Regions from separate parts of the Homo sapiens genome. Here region 2 is linked to region 1. The links come from fine-mapping of genetic effects on gene expression. A gene starts in region 1. The other region holds a variant in brackets. All regions are shown on one strand. Distances are between the middles of the regions.

The links. PIP is the estimated chance that this variant, and not a neighbour inherited with it, causes the effect.
Region 2: its variant is fine-mapped to the expression of LINC00324 in NK cells (Gilchrist 2021, PIP 0.95).

The regions. Positions count from the first base shown.
Region 1 is chr17:8,216,988-8,228,116 of GRCh38, forward strand. LINC00324 (long intergenic non-protein coding RNA 324) reads right to left here and starts at 7,056. Exons shown (of 3, transcript NR_026951.1): 1 at 6,825-7,056; 2 at 5,306-6,287; 3 at 3,643-4,522. CTC1 (CST telomere replication complex component 1) reads right to left here. Exons shown (of 23, transcript NM_025099.6): 23 at 7,828-11,129. It overlaps TRW-CCA1-1 (tRNA-Trp (anticodon CCA) 1-1), which reads right to left and starts at 3,953; the gene lies at 3,882-3,953. It overlaps TRG-TCC3-1 (tRNA-Gly (anticodon TCC) 3-1), which reads left to right and starts at 4,561; the gene lies at 4,561-4,632. It also overlaps TRD-GTC2-11, TRP-CGG1-3, TRT-AGT1-2, TRS-AGA2-6 and TRI-AAT4-1. RefSeq lists enhancers at 3,711-4,597, 4,230-4,379, 4,890-5,029, 5,410-5,609, 5,932-6,673 and 2 more and silencers at 5,290-5,359, 5,820-5,869.
Region 2 is chr17:8,186,339-8,197,467 of GRCh38, forward strand. It overlaps BORCS6 (BLOC-1 related complex subunit 6), which reads right to left and starts at 3,842. Exons shown (of 1, transcript NM_017622.3): 1 at 2,007-3,842. The coding sequence starts at 3,802. The coding sequence ends at 2,729. LOC124903913 (a long non-coding RNA gene) reads right to left here. Exons shown (of 2, transcript XR_007065604.1): 2 at 4,937-6,162. It overlaps TRW-CCA3-3 (tRNA-Trp (anticodon CCA) 3-3), which reads left to right and starts at 20; the gene lies at 20-91. TRS-GCT4-3 (tRNA-Ser (anticodon GCT) 4-3) reads left to right here and starts at 528; the gene lies at 528-609. It also overlaps MIR4521, TRT-AGT1-1 and TRI-AAT5-5. RefSeq lists silencers at 1-50, 551-600, 3,094-3,143, 3,214-3,273, 3,474-3,523 and 1 more and enhancers at 3,009-3,655, 3,634-3,913, 3,656-4,301, 6,119-6,218, 9,689-9,998 and 2 more. The variant T/TTATG (reference allele first, on the strand shown) is at 4,991.

The DNA.
Region 1 (11,129 bases):
AGCTTCCCAAGTAGCTGGGATTACAGGCGCCCGCCACCATTCTGGCTAATTTTTTTTTTTTTTTTTTTTGAGACACAGTGTTGCTCTTGTCGCCCAGGCTGGAGTGCAATGGGGTGATCTTGGTTCACTGCAACCTCTGCCTCCCAGGATTACAGGCGTGGGCCACCATGCCTAGCTAATTTTTGTATTTTTAGTACAGACAGGGGTTTCCTCATTTTCACCAGGCTGGTCTCGAACTCCTGACCTCAGGTGATCCACCCACCTTGGCCTTCCAAAGTGCTGGGATTACAGGCGTGAGCCGCCACACCCATCCAGGAATACACTTTAAAGGCACTTGTGTGACTGCTATTAAATTAGTCAAATCTTAACACATTTTGCTATATTTGTTTATGATGTTTTTTTAAATGAACTAAAAGGCATACAGGTGGAGTTCCAGTGTAAAATTTCTTTTTTTTTTTTTTGAGACGGAGTGTCGCTCTGTCCCCCAGGGTGGAGTGCGGTGGCGCGATCTTAGCTCACTGCAAGCTCCGCCTCCCGGGTTCACGCCATTCTTCTGCCTCAGCCTCCCTAGTAGCTGGGACTACAGGCACCCGCCACCACGCCTGGCTATTTTTTTTTTTTTTTTTTGTATTTTTAGTAGAGACGAGGTTTCACCGTGTTAGCCAGAATGGTCTCGATCTCCTGACCTCGTGATCCACCCGTCTCGGCCTCCCAAAGTGCTAGGATTACAGGCATGAGCCACCAGGCCCGGTCAGTAAAATTTCAAGAAGTAGGCCGGGCGCTGTGGCTCATGCCTGAAATCCCAGCACTTTGGGAGGCCGAGGTGGGTGGATCACGAGGTCAGGAGATCGAGACCATCCTGGCTAAGACGGTGAAACCCCGTCTCTACTAAAAATACAAAAAAAAAATTAGCCGGGCGTGATAGCGGGTGCCTGTAGTCCCAGCTACTAGGGAGGCTGAGGCAGGAGAATGGCGTGAACCCAGGAGGCGGAGCTTGCAGTGAGCCGAGATCACGCCACTGCACTCCAGCCTAGGCGACAGACAGAGACTCCGTCTCAAAAAAAAAATATTTTCAAGAATTAGGTCTAGGTATATTGTTTCTCTACCATTTTCTTCTGTGGTTGTTATGGATGAAATTGTGTTTCTCCAAAATCCATATGATAAAGCTTTAACACCCAATGTAAATGTATTTCTAGACACAGCTTTAGGGAGGTAGTTAAGGTTAAATGAGGTCATTTGAGTGGAATCCTAATCCTACAGGGCTGGCATCCTTAGGAGAAGAGGGAGAGACTCCAGAGTTCTCTCTTTCCCTGTCGGCACAGAGGAAAGGCCATGTGAGGACACTGCAAGAAGGCGGCATGTAGAAGCCGGCAAGAGAGGCCTCAGCAGACACCAACCCTGATAACATCTTGATCTTGGACTTTGAGCCTCCAGAACAGTGAGAAAATAAATATCTGTTGTTTAAGCCACGCAGTCTACGGCATTTTGTTATGGTAGCCTGAGCAGACTAATACAGATTCTAAGGTCAGTGGAAAACTACAAGCGGAAGCACTCAGTTCAGATAGGACTACTAGTGGCTTAGACCCTTCAGGAACAAGGTTTGGGTCTCCCTACGAGGGAAATAACCAGGACCAGTTGAGGGGCTTGTTGAAGACAATGGGAAGACAAAATGGGTAATAGAAGAAGCTAGTTAGGCCAGGTGCGGTGGCTCATACCTTTATTCCCAGCATTTTAGGGGGCTGAGGCGGGAGGATCACCTGAGGTCAGGAGTTCGAGACCAGCCTGGCCAACATGATGAAACCCCGTCTCTACTAAAAATATAAAAAAAAGGCTGTGCACAGTGGGTCACGCCTGTAATCCCAGCACTTTGGGAGGCCGAGATGGGTGGATCACCTGCACTCTACTGCACTCCAACCTGAGTGACAGAGCGAGACTCCATCTCAAGAAAAAAAAAAAAAAAAAAGAAGCAGCAGCAGCAGCAGCAGCTAGTTATCAGCTACCACTACGTGGCCAGTTAGAGAAACAAGGACTGTAAGTGTATTTCCTTTTTTTTTTTTTTTTTGAGACGGAGCGTCAATCTGTCGCCCAGGTTGGAGTGTAATGGCATGATCTCAGCTCACTGCAACCTCCGCCTCCCAAGCTCAAGTGATTCTCCTGCCTTAGCCTCCTAAGTAGCTAGGATTACAGGCATGTGCCACCATGCCTGGTTAATTTTTTTTGTATTTTGAGTAGAGACGGGGTTTCACCATGTTGGCCAGGCTGGTCTCAAACTCCTGACCTCAGGTGATCTGCCCACCTCGGCATCCCAAAGTGCTGGGATTACGGGCGTGAGCCACCACACCTGGCTGTATTTCTTCTTTATTTTGTTACGAATATATCTGTGTGTGTGTTTCAGCTAATAAATGTACACAAAATGATAGAATTAGGAAATGATCATTTTGCATCTCCTTATGAAATAATTAATGCAGGCAAGGTTTTCTGGTTGCCCTGGCAGTGAGAATGGTGGTGGGACTGCTTGGTAGCCAGCCTCACAGCCAGCTCCGCCTTAGGTCGCCAGAGTTTCTATGCTGTTACCTTGCTCAGGTCATCAGCAGTTCTTCAAGCACCATTTCTGCAAGGACTGGTCAACTGTCTGCCTTTGTCTTGTACATAGTGATACAGTGACACAGAGACAGCTATGGCAGAAGGTGGGCAGGGGCAAGAAAGGGGAAGGAAAGCGGAGCACAGATTTTAACCTGGGCAATGTCTGCTGTGTGGATGGTGGTGAGATGGCCCAAATTCTTCCCCATCAACCAAAGCCAGTCACACTTAGAAAGGTATTGTTAGTGGAGGAGAGAGAGGTGAAGGGAATAAATTTCCCATTGGAAAAGACAAGGCATATAGGGTGGGTGGCCTGGATTTCTTTCTTTCTTTTTCTTTTTCTTTCTTTCTTTTTTTTTTTTTTTTTTTGAGAGAGAGTGTCCCTCTGTCGCCAGGCTGGAGTGTAGTGGTGCCAATCTCCGCTCACTGCAACCTCTGCCTCCGGGGTTCAAGCGATTCTCCTGCCTCAGCCTCCCAAGTAGCTGGGACTACAGGCATGCGCCACCACGCCCAGCTGATTTTTGTAGTTTTTAGTAGAGACGGGGTTTCACCAAGTTGGCCAGGATGGTCTTGATCTCTTGACTTCGTGATCTGCCCGCCTGGGCCTCCCTAAGTGCTGGGATTACAGGCGTGAGCCATCCCATCCCACCGGTTTTGTTTTTCAATATACTGGAAGCAGCCAAAATGCACGTGGTCCTGGGCTTCTAGTGACTGCTGGGAAGTCTGGAGAAAGGTAATATTTGTATTTAATATCCTTGTGTTCAGTGTTAAGTAAACATACCTAGAACAGCAGAGATTATTAAAAACATTTAAAAAGGCCGGGCACAGTGGCTCACGCCACTAAAATACAAAATTATCCGGGCGTGGTGGTGCATGCCTGTAATCCCAGCTACTCGGGACGCTGAGGCAGGAGAATCCCTTTGAACCCGTGGGCGGAGGTTGCGGTGAGCCGCGATAGTGCCATTGCATTCCAGCCTGGGCAACAAGAGAGAAACTCCGTCTCAAGGGAAAAAAAAATACAAACAAAAAATAATAATTTAAAAAATTATTTAACAATTTCCATACAACAGGGAATTTTTTTATTTTTAAATTTATTTTTACTTTTATAGACCTTAGGGATACATGCGCAGTTTTGCCACAGGGATATATCACATAATGTTGAAAGTCTGCACCCAACTTCTGAATAACGTTCATATTTGTCTCATTCCCCTCCTATCCTTCTACTGAGGAGGCTTTTTTTTTTTCCTATCCTGAAAAATGTCACCGTAGGTCTATTTGATTAGGGAAAACAATGTTTTGTTTGACCCCGACGTGATTTGAACACGCAACCTTCTGATCTGGAGTCAGACGCGCTACCGTTGCGCCACGAGGCCTGTCCAACAGCGTGACTTGATGGGTCTGTTGAGCAGCAATAACGGGCGGACTTTTGTCATGAAGCCCCACCTTTAAGATTTGTCAGCGCATTTCTCTGAGGCACCAGCTGACGAGATGTGGGCGCATGTACGTAGGAATTAAATTCATCCTCTGGATAAATAATAGAGAGGCAAGTTGCGTTTAGGCGCATTTGGCTTAAGGCCCAATTCCTTAACTGGAATCACATTGAGCTCGTTGAGCTCACTCTACAGAGAAGCCATTTTTATGTGTCTAGGCCTTTTTTTTTGTTTTCTGGAGATGATAAATCATGGTGTCGCTGCAGTTCTCGCCCCCTGGACAAATCTTAGACGTAATCCCAGCTCTGCCGGTGACTCAGCTTCCCTGGATCTTGGTTTCCTCGTCTGTAGACTGGGCATAACCCTACAGGTTCATGTGGGGTGGGTGGCGCGCGCTAGCGGTGAAGGTCACTCACAATTGCGCGCTGGGCAGACGACGGCAGCCATTACTTTTACCTCGATCGCTGTTTTCCTGGATCCGCACGGGTCCAACCCGACTCATCCCAACCAACCTGAGGTATGAAAACCAGGAAAGAGAGCTAGCACCGGAGCGTTGGTGGTATAGTGGTAAGCATAGCTGCCTTCCAAGCAGTTGACCCGGGTTCGATTCCCGGCCAACGCAAGTCGTTTTGGGTGTTTTTTCCCCCCCCCGCCTTTTCCTTTTCGTGTTTTCTGGGCCCCAGCATCGTTGAGGGTTTTCGTGAGGTTTTCCTGAGGAAACTTCCGCTCCGAAAGGACCCACTTTCCGCTACACCCGCGACCACGGCTGGACCACCGCGCTCCTGACGGATGCGCCCTGCAAGCCCCTCCAGGCGAGAGCAGCGCGTCGGAATCTCGGCCCGGGGTTGCCTACTGTTCCCGGATCGCAGTGCGAATCCACAAAAAGCAGGGAGGCGAAAGGAAACAAAAGCCCGGGCTCTGCACCCTGGACGGCTGGGGGCCAAAGCTACTTGCCCAGGTTCAAGCAGAGACTGGAAATGCGCACTTCCGTCAAGGAGGGAGCAAGCTAGGCCAAGTCTGAGCGCTAATGAGCATACTGAGCAGAGCAGATAATGGCCACTTTAGGTACACGTTTGAACTCTAAGTTGCTTGAAGTAAAATGGAAACTTAGAATGCGAGCTGGAGAGGAAGGCCAAACTCTCCTCCCCTCCTCCTTTCCCTCTTTTTTATAGCTCCATCCCAGGGACCAGGACGGATTTAATGAAAGCAAAAAGATAGAAGTTTCAAAACTGCTAGTACTCTCCCCGTCGGGGAATCGAACCCCGGTCTCCCGCGTGACAGGCGGGGATACTCACCACTATACTAACGAGGAGGGACCTGTAGAGACCTTTCTCCGAATCCTTGATCTGAGACTTTACACTCTGCGTGCTGACAGCAGGGTTCCTAGGGGTTCTGTTCTTCCAACCACTGATAAACGCTGACCAGAAACCGTAGGTGTATTTCAGGCACCAATCGTCAGATGGAGTGACCGAAAGAGACAGAGTGCCTTCAGGACTGCAGAGAACCAAGTTTTGACAGTTCCTGGGCTCTCCCGAACACTGTCATCCACAACTATAGATTGACGCGTGTCAATCAAAGCGAAACCAGGCTGTGGTGGCCGAGTTGAGACACCAGGAAGGAAGTCAGGAAGCAGAAAGGGAGGGACCTGCCCAAGTCTGGGCGTGCCTCGTCTCTTCCTGACATGCCAGGCGGGTCTGGGGATTGAGATGCTTTCTGCTACCGCGGTGCCACAAAAGAGCTTACTGTACATTGATGACTTACAGTCAAGCCTCCTGCAGCGCTGGTCAGGTAACCTATTCCTTGAAGACACTCTTGTCTCAGTAAAAGGTAAAGGAGGGCTCGTCCGGGATTTGAACCCGGGACCTCTCGCACCCGAAGCGAGAATCATACCCCTAGACCAACGAGCCGACGTGCGGACGTTGCCGCGAACCGCCTTAGAGGTCGTGCCAGGCTTGCTGTAGTGCTGGGTCCACTATGCATGGCGGAACGGTCCGGGCGCACGCTCACGGACCAGCCTCCCCCAGGCCGAGTATTTTGGAGCACTGGGCTGGGAATCTCTTGGCTCCGGGCCGCGAGCTCCGGCTCCTCCCAGGAAATAGCGTCAAGGAAGTGGGAGGGAGTGGCCTCGGCCTCGCCCCCGCGCCGCCTTGCACGACTGCCTTGAACACCCGGGTTGTTGCTTCCTTTGGTTACCGACTTGGTGCCATTCCGTAACCTGGGATCTTGACACTTCCTGCCTCCGCCTGCGGTCCTTGGACCTAGCTCTTCGTTGCAGAGCTTTGAAGAGAAGCGGTGGAATTGCTTGCTTTCGGGACGGGCAGGAGAAATCACTAGGGGAACACCAGTGCCCCGTGTCTGTCTATCCTCCTGGGCTAACGGGCAGGGCAAACCCTGGGCCAGACCCATCGATAGTCCACGGGTTCCCCAGACCGCATGGCAGTACCCAAGCGAGGGAAAGAGGGAACGATTTCTGGGGCCCAGAAGACCCACGGAAGAGGGCGTTATTGAGCTGGGTGACTGGAGGGGGACAGGCTTTCCACCCTGCAGTGGGGCGGGGCGCAAGGCCAGGCGACTAGTCTCATGGCTTCCGGACTGTAAGATCAGGTTACCCCTACCCTACAGTCTAACCTCTGCTCCCCAGTCCCCTCCTAGAATGGCCTAGAAGGGAGACCCTCCTGCCTGCCTCCTAAGACCCCCCGAAGGCTCTGAGGCACGTGGCCGCATGAATGTGGTCGAAGGCCTGTAGACCCGGTTTGGGGACTTAGCAGTGTCCCCGGGACTGCCCAGTGAGCCTCTGCGCTCTTAAACACTCACCATGCTGCTCTTACTCCGGAGCTGCCCAGAGTCCCAGCAAGATCTGGTGGGGTCGGTAGCAGACCACGTGTCCTGCCTTTCCTCAGCTCAGTGCCTGTTCTGGGGAGTCCTCCCAGCGGGGTTCTGGCCTGCATCGGCCCTGGACCAGCCTGGTGTCATCTGTGGAACCATTTTGTTCTACACCCCAGTTGTGTGATTTGTGGGGCCAGGCCGTTCCTAATGCCCAACCCATAGATACGATGACGGGGCTTTCAGTGAAGGATTCAGCTCCTATTTGTCTTTCCCAGGTTCCCCTGGACAGACAGTGGGGAAGGGCAGCAGAAGTTAGCCCAGCCTTTCCCATTAGTGTCCCAAGTCTTTGAGATGGGTAAAGAGGTTCTCAGGGCTGATCTGGCATCTCCTCCCCCATTCCTACCCTTTTCCAATTCCTGTCTCCCTCCCCTTGGGCCCCAGCTTTCTCTGCAAAATAATCCAGTCACCTCTTCCCTGGCCTCAGGCACTTAAACGCTGCAGAAGGGGAGGCCTAAATCCTTTATGACCCTTATGAAAGCTATGTCCCTCTTCACCGGGCACAGTGGCTCACACCTGTAATCCCAGCACTTTGGGAGGCTGAGGTGGGTGGATCACAAGGTCAGGAGTTCAAGACCAGCCTGACCAAAATGGTGAAACCCCGTCTCTACTAAATATACAAAAATTAGCCAGGCGTGGTGGCGGGCGCCTGTAATCCCAGCTACTCGGGAGACTGAGGCAGGAGAATTGCTTGAACCCGGGAAGCGGAGGTTGCAGTGAGTCAATATTGTGCCATTGCACTCCAGCCTGGGTGACAGAATGAGACTCCCTCCGTCTCAAAAAAAAAAAAAAAAAAAAAAAGCTATGGCCCTCTTCCTAAACATGTATACAATCCAGGGAGTTCACACATAATCCCATCCACATACCCCACACTTTATTTTTTCCTCAGAAAAGTGCGTACATAGACCCCACTTTTAATAACCAAGAACTAACAAACAGCTGATCATTCGTTTATTTTATTTCATTTTTTTGAGACGGAGTTTCACTCTTGTTGCCCAGGCTGGGATGCAGTGGCGCGATCTCGGCTGACAACACCTCCTCCCCCCTCCAAGGTTGAAGCGATTCTCTTGCCTCAGCCTCCCAAGTAGCTAGGACTGCAGGCGCCTGCCACCACGCCTGGCTAATTTTTTGCATTTTTAGTAGAGACGAGGTTTCACTATGTTACCAGGTTTCACTATGTTGGCCAGGCTGCTGGTCTGGAACTCCTGACCTCGTGATCCGCCCACCTTGGCCTCCCAAAGCGCTGGGATTACAGGCGTGAGCCACCGCGCCCGGCCATACATGGCAAGTTTCTACATGGTGTTTCAGACTTAGCTGATCACCCTCTACCCTCAGGCCAGATTAGATTCCACTTCTCCCTGTTCTTACAGTGCCGTTAGTGCTGAAAGGGGAACGTGCCTTGTTCATTTGGTTCTGCACAGGGTCCAGCCCAGTGCTTGGCACAAACGTGGTCTCGGCAGTGCTGCATCCCTGGCTTGACCTGGAGGTAGCAATTCCTTCAAGCCATTTGCTCATCTTACATTGGTTCGTGGGCCATGGAATGGTGTCGAGAGCTTTCTGCCTATCTTCCAAGGAGGTTTAGGTCCTGCCAAGAGCTCACAGATCCTATTTCTTGCCTTATCTCTGGCATTTATTTCTTCCTTAACCAGCCTAGCTTCAGTGCTCCAGAAAAGTGCCCTGCCCTTCCACACCAGGATCCCTAGCGACTCCCGAATGATGCTTTCTTGGACTCTGTTCACATGGCCTCAGCCCTTCTGCACCCTGCTGCACGAAACCTGGTGCCAGGCCAGGCCAGGCCAGCCGGATCCCTGCTTACTCCTTACCCTGACATCCCGCTGGTGGAGAGGGATGGAGGTAACTGCAAGTGAAAGACCAGTTAGAGGACCGCATCTGGAAGCTGTGCCAAATTTTAAATACTGTATATTTAAATATATATTTTTATATTATATACTATATATATAACATTATGAGCCACCAAACCCAAAGAACTATAATGAAGAGCCAAACAAAACAAAGTGGCTCAGGTTCTAGGGGACGTCCTAGGGTGGAGAAAGAGGCCTGGAAGGTGGGCAGCCCCTTCCATCGAGGGTGGGGCGGCCGCCTGACCCAGTCCACCTGCACCAGTGGGGTGTGGCATCAGTTAAGCAAAGGACCCTTAGGCCTATGCAACATTTCTGCCCCTAAGTTAGAGAACCACCTTTTAGAGTGGCGATCTCATGGGAGTGGCAGCTTGACTCTGCAGGAAATGTGGGTGCTATGAGTGCAGAACAGAAACTCTTACGCGTTCTGATATAAAAACAATACATGAAAGGATGTGGATTTAGCCGCAAAATCACGCTGTTTCAATTGAATAAAGGCACCGCTGGGATTCGAACCCAGGATCTCCTGTTTACTAGACAGGCGCTTTAACCAACTAAGCCACGGCGCCGAAGCTGCCATAAAGGTTCCTGAAATTCATCTACAAGAATATAGAGCTAGGAACCCGGACCGAGCTTTTTCAGATCTTTCTAGAACTAATTTGGTAACTCAACTGGCTCTTGCATCACTTGTCCATTCCTCGGATTTCCTTCAATGTCCAAAGACGTTAATCATAGATTTCAAACCAAAATCATAGACTCTAAATCAAATTCTCGATTCTAGAGTTCCTAGATGAGAGGTTTGGAGGGTGCCGACTGGATCATCCCATCCTGGAGAGAAATATGGTCAGTATGCTGAAGAAAAAAATATGACGTAGTCGGCAGGATTCGAACCTGCGCGGGGAGACCCCAATGGATTTCTAGTCCATCGCCTTAACCACTCGGCCACGACTACGAGGCTTAGGGCTTCGTTTTCATCCAATGCCTTTCTTACTTCCCTTGACTGACAAACATCTGCCTCCATGAAAGCGCTTCAGGGAAAAAAAGACGCGGCGGTTGCACGTGAACCTTCCTTTCACCCGGGTGCCCAGAGACTCCTCCCTCCAAGCCTTCGGGAGCGCTAGTGATTCAGGGAATAGGAAGCAGTAGGTGCAATATAATTCTGTTACCAGAAGGCAACTGGCTCCGGGTAGAAACTTCCGGATAACAGCAGAGGGTCAGAAAACAAAACACACACAAAAAAAAGCCACCCACTGGCCCGTACGGGGTTCGAACCCGCGACCTTGGCGTTATTAGCACCACGCTCTAACCAACTGAGCTAACCGGCCACTAACTTTCCGGGTCTACTTCAAATCTTAATATAGGGTATTGCTACCATAAAAGCAGCATAAATCCCAACATATGGGTTTAACCACGCTCTAAAGGTCTCCCAAACACGAACAAATCCTAACAGCCAGGAAGAAATGGCCTCCCAGTAGCTCTGAAAGATGTGCCTCAGCTCATCTTTCCACCTCTCCATCTATCAGTCCCCAGTAAAGAAATGCAGCAACACCAGCCAAAGGCATTGGTATCTCCAAAGAATTGTTCCTAGATCCCCTAATTGTACGGTTGTGATTTCGGAGCACCTTCTGGTCTCAAGGTATATCGATCAAGGATCTGCCTTAGGCCAGGCCCTTGGGAAACCTACAGGGCTAACCGTAGCCTGGGGCCCTATAGCACAGTCACCCAGAGTCCTCACCTGCCCCTGCTTGTGCCTGGCACTTGCCTCCCCCTACACCTTCTTTGTGCTTGTGAACACCTCTAGGCATTCATATTTGACTTCCTGCAGGGCCCAGCCTTACTGACTGAGACCATCATAGCTATGCTCTCTGCCTTGCCGCCAACTCCCCAATTTACTTCCTTTACAGACTGATTTTGGTACCATTTCTTCTGCTGGACGAAAAGCTCTTCTCTTCCAAATCACTTTCCACCTTTGGCCCTGGCGGCAAAGGGCTGAAATGATGATGAACGACTAGGAGTTCCTAGGAGGTGGACAACTAGGAGTCAGGAGGCCTGGGACCCCAGAGATGAGTACCAGTGAGAAATGACACCAGAGGGCTTCATTGCAGGTCAATAGGCCTGTCACCATCACCCCACAGCGAGCAAGTCTTTTGTTCCCTCAGCTCCTGCGACAAAGTCAGAACCCAGGTGCTCAGGGCCGCCTGTGAATGCAGGTGCCTTGTCCCAATCAGAGGACATATTAATAGGGCCATGATTTCCTGTTGCCACAATTTTGCCAAGGCAGGCTGGCACCAGAACACCAAAGAAGGGAAATTATAGTGGAGTAGCAGTTTGTGAATCTGGAGTCCTTGGTTCAATCACAGAACAAGTAGGGAGAGGA
Region 2 (11,129 bases), 31 kb before region 1:
AGCTGCCGAGTGGCCGGCCGACCTCGTGGCGCAACGGTAGCGCGTCTGACTCCAGATCAGAAGGTTGCGTGTTCAAATCACGTCGGGGTCAGCGGCTATTTTTCTTCGGTTTTTATTAACCCCCTTTATTTTAAACTACGGTCGAGCTTCAGCGTTCAGGTCATTGAAGAAGCAATATCTCCTTGGGGCCTGAAGGAGAGGGGTTTCTGGAAGTTCCAAGGCCGCCCCGTCTGGACAGCCCAACCATCGCGCGGGGATTTTTGCGATGGATCCGGGTACCGTAATTCTGGGCGGATAACGCGGGTCCTAAGACAGGAGCAGTTCTAGACCTCTCAGCAGAGGGACGAGGGTCGGGCCATCACGCATGGAAGAAGTCGGTCTCTGATCTACGAGTTCTCTTTCCAGTGCCGAGCGGATTCCTTCCAAATGTGCAGCCTTCACGACGTAGGCGAGCCCCACCTGCAGGAAGTTCAGGTTCCAGAGAAGTGAGATGCGGAGGGCAGTCTGAACAGCGAGGGCTGTCTGCAGACGAGGTGGCCGAGTGGTTAAGGCGATGGACTGCTAATCCATTGTGCTCTGCACGCGTGGGTTCGAATCCCATCCTCGTCGGCTAAGGAAGTCCTGTGCTCAGTTTTGTAGCATCAAAACTAGGATTTCTCTTGTTACCCCCAGTCACTCCATTCAGTTTTCGTGTCTTTCCCAGCTGCATCCATCCTTTCCTCATTTTCGTATGCAGCCGACTTTTTGTGACATCTTTGTATTCATTCTCTGCAATTCAGCTGACCTGGCCAAGGAAACAAGATCCTAAGCGTCTTTCCGGCGGCGCCGTGGCTTAGTTGGTTAAAGCGCCTGTCTAGTAAACAGGAGATCCTGGGTTCGAATCCCAGCGGTGCCTCCGTGTTTCCCCCACGCTTTTGCCAACATTAAACATTGTGAGGACAGTTGCAGAAACTCATAACTTCCATCCTACATGGTTTACTCACGTACCCATCTATCCTCTCCCGGTGCATCTGCCACACGCTGTTGGGTTTTTGCTCTTCGTGCACATGGTACTTGCGCCTCGACCTGCAGTTACACCAGTCGCATCATCTGTACTTGCCAGTACTGTCTGTTACTCGTCTAGGTGCTCAGTTAGTCAGTGTTTGTGTTCTGTTTTCATTTCTCATAAAGCAGTCCCACAACTGAAGGTTTTTCCCGAGAGAACTGAACAGTATTGTAACTAAATAGATTTATTTCAAGCTTTTCGTAGCAACTGGCCGGTTAGCTCAGTTGGTTAGAGCGTGGTGCTAATAACGCCAAGGTCGCGGGTTCGATCCCCGTACGGGCCAGGATTGAAACTTTTCGAAAGTACGATTACTGCACTCCGTTTTAGAGCCAAGTAACGTCTCTGGGGAAAAACAGCGCCACATTTCCAATCCCAGAACAGGGAGCGTATTGGAGCGCATTCTAAAGTGGGCGTGTCTTGAGAGGAAGGGATTGAGAGAAACCGGGGTTGTTTCGTGATCTTTGCTTCTACATCTTATGGCCACAATATATGGCTCCTGAACTTACTGTGTGAACTGTAAACAAAAGGCTTTGGGACAAATTTGTCTCAAACCACGTGGCACTGATCTGCAGAGTGTGGGAAATGGTCAGGAATAGAGCTGACAAGTGTTCCCAGTCTTCCCCCAGAGGTAAGATGTCCGTCCAATCCACCCAGCCCCTGCCTATTCATGAGGACCTGAGAAGACAATTTCTTCCCCTTCTCTTCTAGAGCATCTTTTTTACGTTTCTGTGGTTACCGGATCTCTGGGCCCCTGTGAGTGATTATCTGTGTCCTCACATTTCCCCTCAGACCAGATGCTTAAGAGCAAGAACCATATCTTTCCCCACGGAGCCTGAGACATCTCCACCCCCACCCCACTCCCAGCACCAGCCCCAAGGGAGCTGCGTGAACAACACCGACCCTCATTCCCATTCCTTTGGCTTATTAATCACTGCAACCCCACACAGACTCAGCCTCAGCCTTCGCAGCAGCAGCACTTTAATTCCACAAAAACTCAGAAAGCCAAAACTGATTAGAACACTCCACAACAGGTGAGCTTCAAAACCAGCAACATTCTACCTGAACCCTGAGAGCAGTGAGACGCCTCCCACCTCACCCCCTCCGCCGTGCAACCCATTCCTCCTAGCTGCACGCCGGTTCTGGCTGGGGAAGTGGTATGGTAGAGGGCCAGAGGGCAGAAGCAGAAGGCTCTCCATCAGCAGGGGTGCATCTTTGCCTGCGGGGTGTTTGGCCAAGGACGGCACAAGCTCCCACAGCCCCTGGCACCTGAGATGTGGCCACTGGAGTCAGGATAGCCACAGTGGGGGCTGGGGCTTCCTCTGTCCCTTTCTCCTGATTACATGTGGGAGTCACGTCCTCACCTTCAAGCAGACCTAAAGCCCCGTGTTCCCAGGGCTGGTGCTCTAGCTAGGGAGGAGAGTTGGGAAGAACAGGGTAGCTACAGATGGCCAACTGAATACAAGCAGAGCAACATCCCTTCCCACCAGGAGAGCCGTTAGAACTTCCCCACATACACCAGCCTAAGGCCCAGCGAGTGGGCACGGGCCAGCTGAACGCATCTGGAAGAGCCTCCAACACACAGGCCTCCCCTCAGTGGGCACTTCCCACCAGGACTCCCTGAAGAGTCCTTAGGGTCCTGCTGGGCCCTGCCCTGGCCAGGACCGGCCTCTCCTGTCCTCCTGGTCACTTGCACAGGGCCTCCAACACCTCCAGAGTACGTCGGATATCCCGGACTTGGCGCGCCAGCCCCTGAACCGGCTGCAGAGCCCGCTCCAGCTCCTCGCAGCGCGCCAGCAGGGTGTACATGCCCTTGATGCTCATGTCCACGGCTTCACCTAAGGAGTCCACAGCATCGCGGTAGGTCTGGATGCAACCCACGCTCAGCGCCGTCAGCTCCTGCACCGCGCCACCCAGACCGCGAAGCAGACGGTCCACCCGGCCTCCCAGCTCCCGACTCAACCGCTCCAGATCCCGCAGCACCTCGGGGTCGATTGGGGGAATGGCCGGTGTGGGTGTGGGTGCAGGCGCTGGGCAGGGCCGCGCAGGGGCAGAAGGCGGGGGTGGAGGCGCGCCGCTCAGACGGATCTTGAGTTGCAGGTTGTTGGCGACAAAGTGGGTAAGGTCGCCGTGGCGGCTCACTGTGCCTTCGAGCTCCAGGGGACTGGAGATGGTGGCGCGGCGTCCGCCGCCCGCGCCGGACTCGGCACTCCCTGAGGACCCGGCGCCACCGCACGCCTCGCTCAGCCCGTCCAGGCTGCGGCTGTCCTGAAGACGGCTGGAGAACGAGCGGCCGGCTCTGCTGCCCGCGGCCGCCTCCTCGTCGTTGTCTTCCTCCTCCTGCTGCTCAACATCCATCCCGCCGCCTGGTCCCCCTCGACGGCAGTCCCTCCCGGAGGAGGGCTTGCCCTCGGGCGGCGCCGGGTTCTTGTGCCGGGAGGACAGGGAAGGTTCGTGCTCTGCACCCGGCGCCCCCCTGCGGCTCCCGGCCCCAGACAGCGTCCCTTGAGGGCCGGGCTCGTTCTCCAGAGCCTCCCGTTCCGGCCGGTGGACGACGCCGCAGCTTGACGTCTTCGGGGACGTCCTGGGGTGGCGGTTCGCGCCCCCAACGTTCTCGGTCTCTTCCTCCCCGGACACCCGGAGGCCTGCGGGCGGCTCAGAGGACGTTCGGCCCGGCCCGCCGCCAAAGACTAGGGCCTGATGTTCCGCTACAGCCAGAAGGTCCGTCTCGGGCCCGGGCCGCCCCCGAGACGACTCCATACTGCAGGTGGGGGCCGCAACGGAGGAATTGGTTCGCCCCGGCTCCGGAGGCAGTGGCTGCGCCTTTAAGGGGCGTTGGTAGAGGCGAGCCGATTGGCAGCGGCTGACAATGGTAAGGACAGGAAAAGCATTTTGATTGGTCGCGGCGACCAGGAAGTCCCGGAAGAAGAGCTGTTACTGCACAGCGGAACACACGTGAACGCCGGCAGGGTGGAGAGAAGGAGGTGACAGCTGCTCCCGTCGCCCCGCCCTTTCTGAAAGCTGATGGGGCAGATCTTAAAGACCAAGGTCCTCAAATTCCTGAGTCCCGAGGGGTGGGGCTCAGATCCTTTCTGCCTGTAATTGTACCCCCCCCAACAGTGATTGCTTAGCAAAAATACCAAGTGGGGAGCCCACTTGGGGTTCCTAGAGAGGTTCTTAGGATGAAAATGGCATATCCTTCTTGGACCATCAGGGTTGAACCTAGTTGACTAAAAAGAAGGAAACCAGAAGTCCAGCATGAGCATGAATGGTTTGCTCTATCTTTCTTGGTTAAGAGACCTAACCACTGAACTGCTCAGAGCGACCCACTGTGGTCAAGGCAGCGGCCTCTGGGCTTTCCTATGCGTTTGTCACTCTTGTTCTGTGTCTCTTGCCCCTTTCACACTGAGGGGTCTCGCCCCTTGGAGGATGGCGTGTGATTTTGCCACGAGGTAAAATATTCAACAAATGAAATGATCACAAATTTTGATATGTGCTATACAGGAAATAAAGTGTTATGATTGAGAATATAACTGAGCAGGCACTAGTTTAGGTAAGGGGTCAGGAAAATACCTCTTTGGTGAGACTTTTAACTAAAAAGAACCAAAAAGACGCAGCCACCCCCCAGGCAGAGAGAAGAAAACTTGAGCTACCTCTCAGAGACAAAGAAGTCTTGACGTATTCAAGAAACTGAGGTGAGGGGGCAGGAGACATTGGGACTAAAACAAAATCAGCAAGATAAGGGGAAGGATTTCGAGCCAAGGAGCTGAACAGGCAGCAGGGGCCACGTCATGCAGGGGGCCTTGTAGTTCCTGTTAGGGAATGGAGATTTCCTCTAAATGCAATGGTGCAGCGACATTGGAAAGGTTGTACATTGCAACACATAGCCAAAGCTTGGAGACATCAGTATTTTTATTTATTTATTTATTTATTTATTTATTTATTTAT[T/TTATG]TATGTATTTAGAGACAGAGTCCCACTCCGTCACCCAGGCTGGAGTGCAGTGGCGCGATCTCGGCTCACTGCAACCTCCGCCTCCTGGGTTCACGCGATTCTCCTAACTCAGTCTCCCGGGTAGCTGGGATTACAAGCGCCCGCCACCACGCCCGGCTAATTTTGTATTTTTAGTAGAGATGGGGTTTCACCATGTTGGCCAGGCTGGTCTTGAACTACTGGCCTCAAGTGATCCACCCGCCTCGGCCTCCCAAAGTGCTAGCATGACAGGCGTGAGCCACCGTGCCCGGCCAGACATCAGTATTTAATAAAAACAGTTTGCTAACTCTCCTTAGCTGACAAAGGATGTGGTTGTTTTTTCCATTTGGATAGAGAGATGTCTTGAGGCAGTGTCATGCCAGCATTCAGAAGTGCAACTCCCCAGAACTTCCCAGCACTACTATCCCCAGGTGCCTGCCGGGGTCCTAGCCAGCCAACCCTAATGATAGTAGCTCAATCTTTCACCACGCCTGAGGAGTCCACAATTGTCAGCTGTCTGTATCTTATAGTCACCTGCAGCTTGACAAAACCTGTCATTCCTTTGCTCTAAAAAAAAAAACCTAAAAAGCTCATATATAATTGGGCTGGGTAGGTAGATATTCTTTAGAAGATGGGAGGACTTCCCTTGAGAATGGGAAGCTGAGCACAGGAAGAGAGTGATGTGATGGGATTCATGTTTAGGGATTACTGGCTGTTGTAGAAAATGTTTGCAAGGGAGACGGTAGACCAGTGAGGAGGCGGTTCCAAGTACCAGGTGATAGTAGCTCAGCCTAGCACGATGTGGATGGATGCATTCTAGATGTATCTTGAAGGTTTTAGCGGACAAATGGGCTACCCACCGTCTCTCTGTGTAGGGGAAGCTCCTCACTCCTCAACTCCCCATTCCCTGATGTGTTGGTGCAATGACAGCCAGGAACAGGCACGTGACCCAAAACTGGCCAATTAGAGTACTTCATCCTTCTGACTGCAGATTGGCTCAGGGAAGGGCACATGACCCAATGTATGACCAGTAAAAATCCTCCACAGTGTTGTTTGTTTCTAGCTTTGTGGAGAGTGTGAGACGCCTTTCTGTTCTCTTGAGAGCTCAAGCTGGGTATCAGCTTGTCCATCTTTCATGTCCAGGAGATCGCTGTCTGTAGAAGGAAAGAATGAGGCTGATAAGGAAGAGAACCAGAGACAAAAGATGAAGAGGCATGAGTTCTGAGAGCGTTTGAATTCCTGTGCCAGCCTGAAGATAGCCCCACCTTTATCCTTCCTGTGATTTGGTTCCTTGCCCCACCCCTATCGCACCACCTCCCCCGCAAAACCTTGTTTCTTCCTACGGTGACTTCTGTCTCAGTAAGTGGCAACTCCATCTTCCCAGTGGCCAAGGCCAAAAACCCTGGAGTTGTACTTGACTCCTCTTTCTGTCATAATCCATGGCCAATCCTTTAGGAAATCTTGTTGGTTCTGCTCGAAAATACATCCAGAATCTGACCACTTCTCATCCTTACCATTGTTTCTGCCCTGGTCCAAACCACCATCATTTTTGGCCTGGATAAATGAAGTTGCTTCCCGAATGGTCTCACTTCTTCTACCCTCACCTCTCTCTACAGTCTATTTTCAATAGAGAACCAGAATGATCCTTTAAAAATGTAAATTATCAGCAGGGCGCGGTGGCTCACGCCTGTAATCTCAACACTTTGGGAGGCCGAGGTGGGCGGATCACGAGGTCAGGAGATCGAGACCATCCTGGCCAACATGGGGAAACCCCGCCTTTACTAAAAATACAAAAACATTAGCCCGGTGTGGTGGCGCGCACCTGTAATCCCAGCTAATCTGGAGGCCGAGGCAGGAGAATCACTTGAACCCGGGAGGCGGAGGTTGCAGTGAGCCGAGATTGTGCCACTGCACTCCAGCCTGGCAACAGAGCGAGACTCCGTCTCAAAAAAAAAAAAAAAAAAAAAAAAAAAAATTAGCCAGACATGGTGTTGCACACCTGGAGTCCCAGCTACTGTAGAGGCTGATGCGGGAGGATTGCTTGAACCCAGAAGGTTGAATCTGCAGTGAGCTATCATCGGACTATTGCACTCCAGTCTGGGCAACAGAGCCAGACCCTATTTCAAAAAAAGAATTAACTGATTAGGTTAAGAGTTATGCTCCTCCTGGAGCTAGGGATGGGTCAGTTCCTTCCAAATTCAAACAGTTGCGACATAATGGGAAGGCAGGAGGGGCTGTCAGGAGGCTACCACAGTGTCCACTACAGTGGGGTTCAGCAAAGTATAGCCCAAGGGCCAAATCCAGCTCAACACCTGTTGTTATACGGCCATGAGCTAAGAATGCTTTTATGTTTTTATTTGTTTGTTTGAGACAGAGTTTCGCTCTTGTTGCCCAGGCTGGAATGCAGTGGCGCAATCTCAGCTCACTACAACCTCTGCCTCCCAGGTTCAAACAATTCTCCTGCCTCAGCCTCCCAAGTAGCTGGAATTACAGGCATGTGCCACTACGTCTGGCTAATTTTGTATTTTTAGTAGAGATGGGGGTTTCACCATATTGGTCAGGCTGATCTTGAACTCCTGAGATCAGGTGATCCATCTGCCTCAGACTCAGTGCTGAGATTAAAGGCGTGAGCTACCCTGCCCAGCTGTTGAAAATAATCTAGAGAATATGAAAGTTGGCTGGGCACAGTGGCTCACGCCTATAATCCTAGCACTTTGGGAAACCGAGGCGGTTGGATCACTTGAGGCCAGGAGTTCAAGATCAGCCTGGCCAACATGGCAAAAGCCCTGTCTCTACAAAAAGTACAAAAATTAGCTGGGAAGCCGGGCGTGGTGGCTCACACATGTAATCCCAGCACTTTGGGAGGACGAGGTGCGCAGATCACCTGAGGTTAACAGTGCCAGACCAGCCTGACTAACATGGTGAAACCCCGTCTCTACTAAAAATACAAAAATTAGACGCGCATATTGGCGGGTGCCTGTAATCCCAGCTACTCGGGAGGCTGAGGCAGGAGAATCGCTTGAACCAGGGAGGCAGAGGTTGCAGTGAGCCAAGGTCGCTCCATTGCACTCCAGCCTGGGTGACAGAACATTTCATCTCAAAAAAAAAAAAAAATAGCTGGGCATGGTGATGTGTGCCCATAGTCCCAGCTACTCGGGAAGCTGAAGCACGAGAATTGCTTGAACCCAGGAGGCAGAGGTTGAAGTGAGCCAAGGTCGCTCCATTGCACTCCAGCCCGGGCGACAGAACATTTCATCTCAAAAAAAAAAAAAAAAATAGCTGGGCATGGTGATGTGTGCCCATAGTCCCAGCTACTCGGGAAGCTGAAGCACGAGAATTGCTTGAACCCAGGAGGCAGAGGTTGAAGTGAGCTAAGATCACACCACTGCACTCCAGCCTGGGCAACAGAATGAAACGCTGTCTCCAAAAAAAAAAAAAAAAAAAAAATTCAGAGTCTATAAATTTTTATTGGAACACAGCTATGTTCATTCACTTATGTATTGTCTTTTTTTTGTGTGTTGTATTGTTGTTGTTTTTTGAGACACAGTCTTGCTCTGTTGCCCGGGCTGGAGTGCAGTGGCACCATCTCAGCTCACTGCAACCTCCGCCTCCCGGGTTCAAGCGATTCTCTGCCTCAGCCTCCTGAGTATCTGGGACTACAGGCATATGCCACCACACCCGGCTAATTTTTTTATCTTTAGTAGAGACAGGGTTTCACCTTGTTGGCCAGGCTGGTCTCAAACTCCTGACCTAAGATGATCTGCCCAAAGTGCTAGCATTACAGGCATCAGCCACAGTGCCTGGCCTCCAACAGCATTTTATTTTATTTTGTTTTATTTATTTATTTATTTTGAGACGAAGTCTCACTCTGTCGCCCAGGCTGGAGTGCAGTGGCATGATCTCGGCTCACTGCAAGCTCTGCCTCCCGGGTTCATGCCATTCTCCTGCCTCAGCCTCCCCAGTAGCTGGGACTACAGGCGCCCGCCACCATGCCCGGCTAATTATTTGTATTTTTAGAAGAAACGGGGTTTCACCGTGTTAGCCAGGATGGTCTCGATCTCCTGACCTCGTGATCCACCTCGCCCCACCTGGCCCGCCTCAGCCTCCCAAAGTGCTGGGATTACAGGCGTGAGCCACTGCGCCCAGCCCCCAACAGCATTTTAAAATATTATTTTTAGAAAGTAAAAATTTCTATGTAAGGGCCAGGCACGGTGGCTCACATCTGTAATCCCAACACTTTGGGAAGCCGAGGCCGGTGGATCACCTGAGGTGAGGAGTTAGAGACCATTCTGGCCAACATGGTGAAACCCTGTCTCTACTAAAAATATAAAAATTAGCTGGGTGTGGTGGCGCATGCCTGTAATCCCAGCTACTCGGGAGGCTAAGGCAGGAGAATCACTTGAACCTGGGAGGTGGAGGTTGCAGTGAACGGAGATCATGCCATTGCACTCCAGCCTGGGCAACAAGAGTGAGACTCCATCTCAAAACAAACAAACGAAACAAAACAAAACAAAACAAGATGTCTATGTATATTAATGCAATTGGGAACAGCCCATGTTATACGTAAGAAATGACTGTTATTTCCATCTTAAAGACTCACAAAAGGCCAGGCGCAGTGGCTGGCTGGGTGCCGTGGCTCACGCCTGTAATCCCAGCACTTTGGGAGGCCGAGGCAGGTGGATCACTTGAGGTCAGGAGTTCAAGGCTGGTCTGGATAACATGGTGAAACCCTGTCTCTATTAGAATCGCTTCAACCCAGGAGGCGGAGGTTGCAGTGAGCTGAGACAGCGCCACCACACTCCAGCCTGGGTGACAGAGTCTGTCTCAAAAAAAAAGACTCACAAAAATACAAAAATAACTTGGCCAAGGTCACATGGCTAATAAGCAATGGTGAAGGAATTCAAAGTGAGACATGCTGACTCAAAGTGAAAGCTCGATCATCCACAGGTCTCACCCCTCCATAGGCCACAGTAGGGGTGGGGGTCAGATTACCCACCCTCAATGTTGCCAGTGCCCACATTACTTCACAGAAGTAGAGAGAAGTTATCTGCCGACCTATCAGGGGAACAAGCAAGGCTGGATATCTTTTCTGCTTTCTTTTTTTGGCATCATCCATTCAGTGGGAAGGTAAGGTGATCATCAAGTCCCAAAAATGAACAAATGCCCCAGTCAGCTATGCTCAGCATTTAGAAGAATGTCAACTAGGACAGTTTTCTCCCCATACCCCAGGGCATCAGCCCTTGTATTGTCTGTAGGGCTTGTTGAGTGGGATGGGGGTGGAATGCAGGTTTTATGTGGCATGTAGAATTATGCCATGGTTTTACATTACATTTGGGGATGGCTCTTGCTCTGGATACTTGGAATTTTCACGTGTGAGGAGATGATGTCTTTGTTTTCTTTTCTTTTTTTTTTTTGAGATGGAGTTTCCCTCTTGTTGCCCAGGCTGGAGTGCAATGGCCCAATCTTGCTTCACTGCAACCTCCACTCCCGGGGTTCAAGAGATTCTTCTGCTTCATTCTCCCAAGTAGCTGGGATTACATGCACCCGCCACCACGCCCGGCTAATTTTTTTTTTTTTTTTTTTTTTTTGTATTTTTAGTACAGATGGGATTTCACCATGTTGGCCAGGCTGGTCTTGAACCCCAGACCTCAGGTGATCCACCCGCCTCGGCCTCCCAAAGTGCTGGGATGACAGGCATGAGCTGCCGCGCCCAGCCGAGGTCAGAGCTTTAGTGATGGAAGTGGAAGAGCAGTTACAGAGGAGCATCCATTGGTGGGGAAGGACCAGAACTCTTAGGGAAGGGCTTCTGAACCCCTCAGAACCACCTGGGGAGTTAAAAGCGACATGGATGCTCCAGCCTCAACCCAGATCAATGAAATCTGAATTTGTTAGGGCAAGGCCTGGGAGTTTTTTGTTTTTTGGTTTTTTTTTTTTTGAGACGGAATCTCGCTCTGTCGCCCAGGCTAGAGTGCAGTGGCACGATCTCAGCTCACTGCAAGCTCCGCCTCCTGGGTTCATGCCACTCTCCTGCCCCAGCCTCCTGAGTAGCTGGGACTACAGGCACCCACCACCACGCCCAGGTAATTTTTTTTTGTATTTTTGGTAGAGACAGGGTTTCACC